Homo sapiens: one gene and its partners. The protein of the gene in region 2 purifies or fractionates together with the protein of the main gene of each other region. This does not show direct contact. Each region holds a gene or a part of one and is shown on either strand. Other genes may lie near its edges.

Evidence for each region. The genes of interacting proteins can lie anywhere in the genome.
Region 1: the proteins of RNASE4 (region 2) and CNTNAP3 purify together in Homo sapiens (affinity purification with mass spectrometry; one large-scale study listed by BioGRID and IntAct). This does not show direct contact.
Region 3: the proteins of RNASE4 (region 2) and LRP1B purify together in Homo sapiens (affinity purification with mass spectrometry; one large-scale study listed by BioGRID and IntAct). This does not show direct contact.

Annotation. Positions count from the first base shown.
Region 1 is NC_000009.12:39,099,668-39,103,167, reverse strand, and holds part of CNTNAP3 (contactin-associated protein-like 3 isoform 1 precursor), read left to right. Parts: intron 1-452; coding exon 453-671; intron 672-3,017; coding exon 3,018-3,257; intron 3,258-3,500.
Region 2 is NC_000014.9:20,698,060-20,701,559, forward strand, and holds the end of RNASE4 (ribonuclease 4 precursor), read left to right. Parts: intron 1-976; exon of another isoform or gene 977-1,070; intron 1,071-1,262; exon of another isoform or gene 1,263-1,295; 5' UTR 1,296-1,312; coding exon 1,313-1,756; 3' UTR 1,757-3,157; downstream 3,158-3,500.
Region 3 is NC_000002.12:142,121,017-142,124,516, forward strand, and holds part of LRP1B (low-density lipoprotein receptor-related protein 1B precursor), read right to left. Parts: intron 1-3,500. UniProt on the Homo sapiens protein: Potential cell surface proteins that bind and internalize ligands in the process of receptor-mediated endocytosis.

The sequences.
Region 1 (3,500 bases), on a different chromosome or scaffold from region 2:
GAATTCCAAAAATATTTGACCAGACATATTGTTTTTTATGTACCCAAAGCTTAATTTATGACTGTCAAAATTTACATTCAGTGTTTATAGAATTAGATGAGACTTTGAGCCGTTTGTAAATAAAATTACTGAAACCTCAAAAACAAATACTATTTGGTATTCTAGCTATAGGTACATAGCTATGGGTAGTCCAGCTATGGGTACATATCTCTACTATTTAGGACTTAACAAGGTTGAATTGTGAACTCTGAGGATAAATATGTTAAAATCCGTTCTGTTTTCCTCCAGGATACAGATTTATTCTGCCCCCACCCCAACTCACAGTCCCGTTTTTCTGCATCGCCGTCATTATCTCCTTCCATCCTGAGCGTGCCTTCATGTTTTCCTGTGTCTGCACAAGACTCAATTTTCTGTGAATTTGCTTGAGCAATATTCATATCTAATATTTCTAGCTCCCACAGAAGTGACCTTTTCCTTCGATGTGGGGAATGGACCTTGTGAGGTCACGGTGCAGTCACCCACTCCCTTTAATGACAATCAGTGGCACCACGTGAGGGCAGAGAGAAATGTTAAAGGAGCGTCTCTTCAAGTTGATCAGCTTCCTCAGAAGATGCAGCCTGCCCCTGCTGATGGGCACGTTCGTTTACAGCTCAACAGCCAGCTCTTCATTGGTGAGTGCTGGTGGTTTATAACTGAATTTAGTGTGAGTCCAGAGAGGGACCAAAAGAAAATAAGAACTGTGATGTACTGAGAGCAACAGTTGCCAACAACAACTACTGCTTATTGGTACTATTTGCTGATAACCTGGTAGGTTCCAGGAGCTTGCTGTGTGCTTCTTATTTGACATTTCTTTTTTTGTTTGTTTGTTTTTGTTTTTGTTTTTGTTTTCAGACAGAGTCTCACTGTGTCGCCCAGGCTGGAGTGCAGTGGTGCAATCTCAGCCCACTGAAACCTCCACCTGCCGGGTTCAAGCGATTCTCCTGCCTCAGCCTCCTGAGTAGCTGGGATTACAGGCGCAGGTGCCACCACGCCTGGCTAATTTTTGTATTTTTCATAGAGACACGGTTTTACCATGTTGGCCAGGATGGTCGTGATCTCTTGACCTGATGATCCACCCACCTCAGCCTCTCAAAGTGCTGGGATTACAGGCGCGAGCCACCGGGCCCTGCAGTATCTCAGTGTTTAGGTATCAATGTTTAGGTATTGTCATCTGTTTACAGATGAGATAGCCAAGCCTCAGAGAAGTGGAGTAACCAGCTAATGAGAGGGATCCCAGGATAGCCGACCCCCAAACTTGAACCATTCACATTGCAGAGGATTGGCATATGTGACAGCTATATTTTATCAACACTATTAGTGAGATCATTAGACATTTTTATCCATTCCTTCAGTTTCACTTCTCGGTGGAGTTAGAGAGCTTGTAATTGGGACAGAAGTCCTCCAGGGTCCACTCAAAACCAGATCGCAGGATACCCGCTGATTGGAAGCAGCACTGCGCACCTCCCCCGCGGCCAGGCTTCCAGGAGCCCACTCCCGGTTTTCCTCGCTGCTGTTCTCACTTCTGGGGCTCTCTCATCACAGGCTCCTTGTTTATAACCTGGTCTGGCTCATCTGTTCTTGCACTCCATTTATTTAAAGGTGATAGCTCTGGAAGTCTTTCCTTTAGTTTGCTTACTTACTGTTTTATCACTGTTGTTTATTTTTCCATATTGCTTTTGAAACTATTCTAACTTAGGAGCTACACAGATTAAAGCTCTCACTTGTTCATTTCTTAAGTGTTTTAAAGTGAATAAGGATGCAATCTAATTAAAACTGGACTAAATCACAAATTATCATCCAACCTAATTTACAGGGAAGGGTAGATACAACTTCCAGGTACTAAATGCTACACGTGAACCCACGTATGTATGTGGATGTGGATGGGGTGTTATACCATGACTTCCTAAAACCTAGCTTCAGGCGTGGTTAGCTCTTCTATTAAGGTGCAGTGAGGCTTTTTCAAAGGACATGAAACCATCAAACTACTGGAAAGGAGGACTACACGGAGGGGTCAAACCAAGAACTTGATTTTCTCACTTGTAATCTTGGAGATTATTTAAGGGAATGCCTAGAAACACAATTAGCGTAAAATTCACCTAGAATCAGCATTCATTGCGGTGGATGAATCACTGGCTTCAGAATCACCCACAAAGCTGATTGATAGTTCAGATTTGGGGCCCCCACCTTAGGCCCACCGAATTGGAATCTCTGGGAGGAGGCTAAAAACTGCATTTTCCAGAAACTCTAGGTAATTTCCATGCTCCTAACATTGAGAATTGTCGCCTTCATAATGGTGTTTGTCACTACACAGGTGTTGTAAACCTCTCTAAATGGTTTCTTCAGCATTCAAGTTTGACATGACAAAATGTGCATGCATGCAGTATTCAATTACTGTTTAGCACTGTACCCTCTGAGAGGAGGAGATCCTGGGGTACGGTGTCACCCCTTCCAACTTCCCCTCCTTTGCCTCTCCATTTCCTTTCACACTTTATTTTTAGAGTCCATCCAAGTAAGAAATTATCCATATATATTTTTATTATTGTGAAAAATTTGGAAGTTCATACCTAACCATTATAATGCACATTCTTATTCATAAAGAAATTAAAATAATGTTTGATGAATACACATTCTTATTCCTAAACAAAGTAGAATAGTGTTTGATGTGGTTTATATTATGTATTTTGTTCTTTGTGAAGGAACTAAAGTGAAATTCTTTCTTACCTGAAGTTAAGGAAATGTTTTAGGACTATTTGCCAGACTCACCATGTTTGAAAGTTATGTAAATAAGTGTTTTATTCAATGTCATTTAAAGCTTCATGTCTCATAACAGTTACATTTTCAAAATTGTGTATGTTCACAAAATTTTTTGACACATTGTGATTATTGCCACTCTCCATAAGGCCTGAGTTTGACATGGACATAAAATCCTGAATAAAATACCAAGGAACACATTTCTATTTGCAGTGTTTCCGTTGTAGGTGGAACGGCCACCAGACAGAGAGGCTTTCTAGGATGCATTCGGTCTCTGCAGTTGAACGGGGTGGCCCTGGATCTGGAAGAAAGAGCCACAGTGACGCCAGGAGTGGAGCCAGGGTGTGCAGGACACTGCAGCACCTATGGACACTTGTGTCGCAATGGAGGGAGATGCAGAGAGAAACGCAGGGGGGTCACCTGTGACTGTGCCTTCTCAGCCTATGATGGGCCGTTCTGCTCCAATGGTAAGTGTGACCAAGGAGCAGGTTATAGGGAAAGTACATGAAACTTAAATAACATGAAGAATGCTTCTGGCATTTGATATTATAAAGAGAGGATAAGATTGAATTATTTGAAATGGAATAATTTCTGTACCAAATTCCTCTATTGAATTTAGAAGGGATATGACTGTTTTTGAAAACTTAAGGCTATCAGTCCTCTCTGGGTTTCTTATTTAGAAGATCTCTGGGTTACCCCTAGCATCTGTT
Region 2 (3,500 bases):
AGATAGTGGAAAGAGCACAGGGTGTAGACTAAGATAGGCCTGGATTCCTTTCTTTAATCTGTCAATGAAAGCAATGAATGTTCTGAAACTACATGGCAATGCTTTTTTTGTTGCCACTCTGGCTTTTTTTTTTAATGCTATAAAATATATGCCTATTTTTCACTGCCAAGAGGTGACAACACAATGATGCTGCAACCAGAGAAGACAGACAGCTACCAACAACTATTGACAAGACAGAAGGAACATCAAGAATAGATGCAAGACAAAGCAATGTATCTCCATGGCCTAGATTTTTTAGGTTATGCATAGAAACAGCAAGGAGAAGAAGACACAATCCAAGTTTTCTTTTGAGAATATTGTGCTGTTTAAATTTATTTTTTAAACATTTCTTAGCTTTTCTTATTAGTCAATTTCATAAGCCTGGGAAACATCTTTACTCTATCCATTTAATTGCATTTGTTCATTAGCTTACTCATTTCACTTATTAGTTCATTCAAACAGTAGCTATTATCAACTGTCTTCTAAGAACTGTAACTGGGTATTCTGGTTTTGCTTTTTTTTAAAAAATAGAATTAAAAGGATTTCCAAAAGGACCTGATTTTACATTAGAATTAGAATAATACATTTTAAATTAATGTATAACATATATTATTCTAGAATTAGAATAGATTTTAAATCACATTAGAATAATAGCCACATGACAAAAAAGAAAAGAAAAATAATAAAATTAATGACAAAGAAAAACAATAGTCATGTGAGAGGAAAGGCAAAGCCTAAATATTCCTCTGTCCTCTTCCTCCACCTAGATTCCCAGATGTAAGGTATTAAAAGTAGTTTGTAAACTTTCTGTGACGTATGCTGAGTCTATCCAAACTGTCGGGAATTGGAGCCTCCCGGGAACCAAACACTCCCCAAAGATCATACACCTACGGAGTTCCCCCAAGAGACACACAACTGCAGTTTCATGTAGGTTCACCTTTTCTCTCTTTTTATACTCTGTCCACACAAACCTGGCAGCCACGCAGTCAGTCCCTGCCCTGTGTCATTGTACTGGCCACAGCAACTTCTCTCTGTAAATGAGAAAGGTCTTGCTTTCAGAAAAGATCATGTTTGCAAACTACTCACTCTTGAGGAAGAAGGGTGGGAAAAGTAGCAGAGATGAGTGGGGAGATGGTGCATATAAGAAGGAGGAAAGAGGAGACTATGGAGTCAGGATGCCGGCTTGCTATTCTCAACACCTTTTTCCAGTGCCCAGTTCTTACCTTATTTCTCCTGCCCCTTGCTTTCTTTTCTAGGCACCTCTAAGATACTGATGGCTCTGCAGAGGACCCATTCATTGCTTCTGCTTTTGCTGCTGACCCTGCTGGGGCTGGGGCTGGTCCAGCCCTCCTATGGCCAGGATGGCATGTACCAGCGATTCCTGCGGCAACACGTGCACCCTGAGGAGACAGGTGGCAGTGATCGCTACTGCAACTTGATGATGCAAAGACGGAAGATGACTTTGTATCACTGCAAGCGCTTCAACACCTTCATCCATGAAGATATCTGGAACATTCGTAGTATCTGCAGCACCACCAATATCCAATGCAAGAACGGCAAGATGAACTGCCATGAGGGTGTAGTGAAGGTCACAGATTGCAGGGACACAGGAAGTTCCAGGGCACCCAACTGCAGATATCGGGCCATAGCGAGCACTAGACGTGTTGTCATTGCCTGTGAGGGTAACCCACAGGTGCCTGTGCACTTTGACGGTTAGATGCCACCATGTAGGGATTATCGCGAGTGGTTGACCTTACACTTACTCCTTAAATAGCAGTGAGTAATGCATTTGAGCTGTCCCAGGCTCTGTCTCCTCAGCTCATTTCCTACTCTTTTTCTCTATATAACTCATTCTATTAAATACATTGCACCAAAGAGATATGGAGACATAAACCTGTAATGAATGAGGCTGGGCTTTTCTGTAATAAGCTTCCTTTTATAATACTGGTCAGCTTAGCTCTCTCAGATCCTATCCTGTGGAATTTAGTTATTATGTGTATTTATGTAGTATTTCAAACATTTCAAAATGCTTTCATCTATGTTTATCACATTTTAATACCACAGCACTTATAATGATGTCACTACATATAGAAGCTCAAAGTTAAGGGATTTGCTGAAGACTGTAAAGTTAATGGAAGAATTGAGACAAAAATCCAGTGTAGCTGGCCACTTATCCAGGGCTTTTTCTACTTCATCACAAGGAATGTTTTGAAAGTGTCTGCTTTTTTTATCCTTAAAATTCACCTGTCAGGGAGGCATTAAAAATTTGGAAATGTATGCCAGCAAAATGTGAGCTCTGTATTTTTTGGCATTCTTATGTTTGGGTTTAATAAGATTAAGAAAATGATACTGGGAATTTTCTTTTTCCTGAAACTTTGAATCACCCTAGTAAGTCAAAGTACTAAAAAATGTACTAGATCATTAAGACTTATGTGCTCTTACTGATTGAAAGATTTTTTATGTTTTCCTTGTAATAAAGGACCTAAACCGAAGGTACCTGAGAAGACTGTGCTATGGTATTATTTTTTTTCTCTGACTTTTAAATTCTTGTTTAGTTTATAAACATGCATGCACCTTAATAACCTCATAAACTCTGGTCAAAGACTAATGCCTATCAGATCCATGACCACAACACAGAAGATTTGTCTCATTTACTCCAGAGAGAATGATTCCTCTCAAAGACAATTCTCACAGCTCTTCCTTCTCCCTTAGAATATTTAGAAGCAAATTAGGGAGCTGTCAGGTCTCTGAGCCCAAGCCTGCACGTATACATCCAGATGGCCTGAAGCAACTGAAGAACCACAAAAGAAGTGAAAATAACCAATTCCTGCCTTAACTGATGACATTCCACCACTGTGATTTGTTCCTGCCCCACCTTAACTGATCAATTAGCCTTGTGACATTCCTTCTCCTGGACAATTAGACTCAGGAGCTCCCCACCAGAGCACCTTGTGACCCCCGCCCCTGCCCGCTAGAGAATAACCCACTTTGACCGTAATTTCCCACTACCAACCCAAATCCTATAAAACTGCCCCACCCCATCTCCCTTTGCTGACTCCTTTTTTGGACTCAGTCTGCCTGCACCCAGGTGATTAAAAAGCTTTATTGCTCACACAAAGCCTGTTTGGTGGTCTCTTCACATGGACGCGTGTGGCATTTAGTGCCGAAGACCCAGAACAGGGGGACTCCTTCAGGAGACTGGTCCCCTGTCCTCGCCTTCACTCCATGAGGAGGTCCACCTATGACCTCAGGTCCTCAGACCAACCAGCCCAAGGAACATCTCACCCATTTCAAATTGGGTAAGCGGTCTTTTCACTGTCTTCTCCAGCCTCTCTTGCTACCCTTCAATCTCCCTGTCCTTCCAATTCCAGTTCTCTTTCCTCTCTAGTAGAGACAAAGGAGACGCATTTTATCCATGGACCCAAAACTCAGACACCAGTCACGGACTCGGGAAGATAGTC
Region 3 (3,500 bases), on a different chromosome or scaffold from region 2:
GATTAGAATATTAACCCTTTCCCCCAAAGATTATCTTTTGCGGCTTTATTTCATGCCTATCCTCCCTAATACATAGAATGGTGCTGCATTCGTTCTTATAGAAAATCTTTCTAAACTAAAAATGCAAATCTCTGTTGTAGCTTGTCGTTATTGCCACTACTACTCCCTCATTCAAGCCATCAACATCTTTTCCAGGATGAATTTGATAATCCCTGAACTGGATTCATCATTTCCCTTCTTGTCCTTCTTTTCAGACCAAGCATGATCTCTTTAAAAAGTAAGTTGCATCATTTTCACCTCTGATTAGACAGCCAGTAGCTGCTCAAAATCAGAACCAAACCCAAATGCCTCAATTTGATCTGCATGACCCTACCTGACCTAATCTGACTTCACTGTAAATATGGCTTTCTCTACTTCTGTTCTCTCCCAAACACACACAGTTTATTTCAGACAAAGTGACCTGCTTTCTTTAAAATACCAAAATCACAACTTCCTCTCAAGGGTTGCATAGAAAATTCCTCCCTCTAGATGACTCAGAGCTTGTCCCCTCTCGTCACTTAGTTTTACCAAATATGTCACTTACTCAACAAGGCCTTCTGCGATTATAACTACGACTCCCAATTGCATTGTCCTCAGTCACATTACATTATTTTTCTTTCTTTTTAGCAAGGATGTTATTTATTTATTTGTTTGCTGTTTCTGTCTCCTCTTGCACTAAAGCCCTATCAGCCCAGTTACATTGTCTACCTTGTTCACTTGCTTCATTCCAACCACGTAAAATAGTGATTACCACTTATTTGCTCATCTTTGTCAAATGAGTGAATAAACACATGAGTGATCACCAACTATATGAGTTGCTTCAAGGATCATGTGATTCAGCAAGAAAAAAAAAATTTGAATGAAAAGCGAAGGTATGCTGAAAATGTAAAGAGCTTCTTGCTATTAGTAACTCATATTAAGCAATTAATATAATTAATAAAATAATAGGTATTTATGTAATGCAATACATGATACGATGTGTTTTCACAGACATTACACTCTGTGCACTCACAGAACGTTAGGGTCATAGCTATGTTTATCTTCTCAGAATGGGTCGGAGCAATTTTCTGTAAAACTCTGGTGGTGTTTTCATAGACACCCAGATGAAAATACACACAAGGTAAAACCCTCATGCCCTTCATTACTTTATGTTCTCCTAGCAATGAGAATAGCAAAGGAAGTCAAAATGTGCTAAGATGTTGGTTCTTTCACTGTCAAGATTAATTTCTAAATATTTGACAAGATCACTAGCAAGTGAAAATAGGAAGAAAACGTGCTAGGAGAAGGAACTGTAGAATTGAGTGTAATACAACAACGGACAAAGAAGAAGGTTTAAGTTCTGAATATCTGATATATTTAGTATATCTAAATTCAACATTTAGATTTAGATATTCTAAATGTTGATCATGTTGGATAGTCATCAAATTTTCTTGCAAATAAGATTAGTGTGCTGTTGTATTACAGGACATCAATATAGTGCTCCTGAACTGCTAGTCTTTGTGTTAGAAATGACATCAATACAAGGGCGCTCAGCAAGAGTGCCTGAATTCTGAGTTAGTAATTCCATCTACAAATCTGATGTAGTTATTATGCTTAATGAAAATCTCAAAAATATGGATGCCCAGTGGGCACAATCTGTAGTGCTTTCACCTGATGAGGCAAGAATCTCACTCACGAGGTGGTGTCATTATCACTGTACTTCCAGATCTTAGTCATGAAAAAAATGCCTTAAAAGTTAATAGAGTTGGATAAAGTGGAATATTTCAATAAAGCACACTTGCTATTCTAACATTTTTGTCCCAATAAAAATATACCATTAAAAGCTTTGGAAATGCACAAAATGTCTTAGATAATCTAAAAACTGAATCATTTTTAAATCTCTATAATATCTATTTTAGCAAAAGTTTAAGGTTCTAATTAGCTCAGCTACTTGATCTGAGCAGTAGTGGACAGAAGCTTCAATAAATTCTGACTATCAAAGTTCTCTTTCTTGGCATTGTTTTTCTTCCTTTCCTTACACATCCTAGTTTCAAAAGAAAACAGATGATTCTAAACACATTTCGGTTATCAGCATTACACCTACAGCTTTTCTTTCTCACAAATATCTTAAGATATGCTAGGAACACACAAAGCAACCATAACTAAGTTTCATTTCTCCCCAAAACTCATTGTTAGTTATCTTTTCTCATTTTAAGAAGAAAGGGCTAAGATGACAAATCGTCATTAAAGAAAAACTCAGCGGTAGAAAAATTCTTAAGGAATTATATATTCGTATTTCTAAAGTTAAGCAGTCTTGGAAATCTTGAAGGATGTCAATGCAATGTGGAAAAGTTAGGAAGGGATGTCCTATTGATTGCAAGAATAAAACAAGAGACGATAGGTGGTACCTTGATCTTACCTAAAGAAGAAACATATTCTTTTGACTAAAATGAGGTCATGTTTCAACAATACCTGTCTTTGGTCTGAAGGCTAAGCCAGTCAGGACAATGAGGTGTATGCAACTCAGGAAGAGATGTCTGACTGTTAATAAGAATGTATTGTGAGATGAAATGTAATGTCGGTATCTTAGCAAGGCAACATGATCTATCTTCTTCAAGAAGTTTTTTTTTTTTTTTGGTTATTTTTCTCTTAACAAAGTTGGAAGAAATTGTATATGAAAAGGTACTTTCTCAACTTCTGTAAAGGATATAGTTATAATATTATTCATGTTTAAATGGAAACTTTTAAATACACAAGCTTATATCTGAGAAACTTTTATATACGAGCTTATATTTGAGAAAAATAAGATTAAACAAATGGATCTGTGGTACAAATGTATTAATCAAAATTAATTTTCTTTCTTTTCTAAAGGTAAAGACACCTTTGAAAAGCGTTACGTATTTACAACTATTCTGCAATATTTAAGAAGAAATCCCAAATGTAGACAATACATCATTATTAAACAAATATGAGTAGAGTTATTGAACAACAGAAAAACATGTTTTTTTTAATTTTAATTTTAGATTTGGGGGTACATGTGAAGGTTTGTTACATAGGTAAACATGTGTAACAAGGGTTTGTTGATCATATTATCTTACCACCCAGGTGTTAAGCCCAGTGCCCAATAGTTATCCTTTCTGCTCCTCTTCTTCCTCCCACCCTCCCCCTTGAGTAGACCCCAATCATGTTGAGACATGATTATTTCCAAAATGAACATTACTCTTTTCCACTAAGGATACTTACAAATTTGAAGTAATAGGGAATAAGATCAACAAATGGGTATACTCATTTATTTATTCATGCCATTGCATTTTTAAAAATCATAATTGGGTACCTAATTGTAGACTAAAACTAAGTTAATGTGACTGCATATGAAAATTATTATAGTCATATTTAAAAGAGCATTTAATCCTGTTGTCCAATTTATGAATGATTTCCACTATATATATTCTTTATTGAGAGAAAATCTTTGAAATCACATT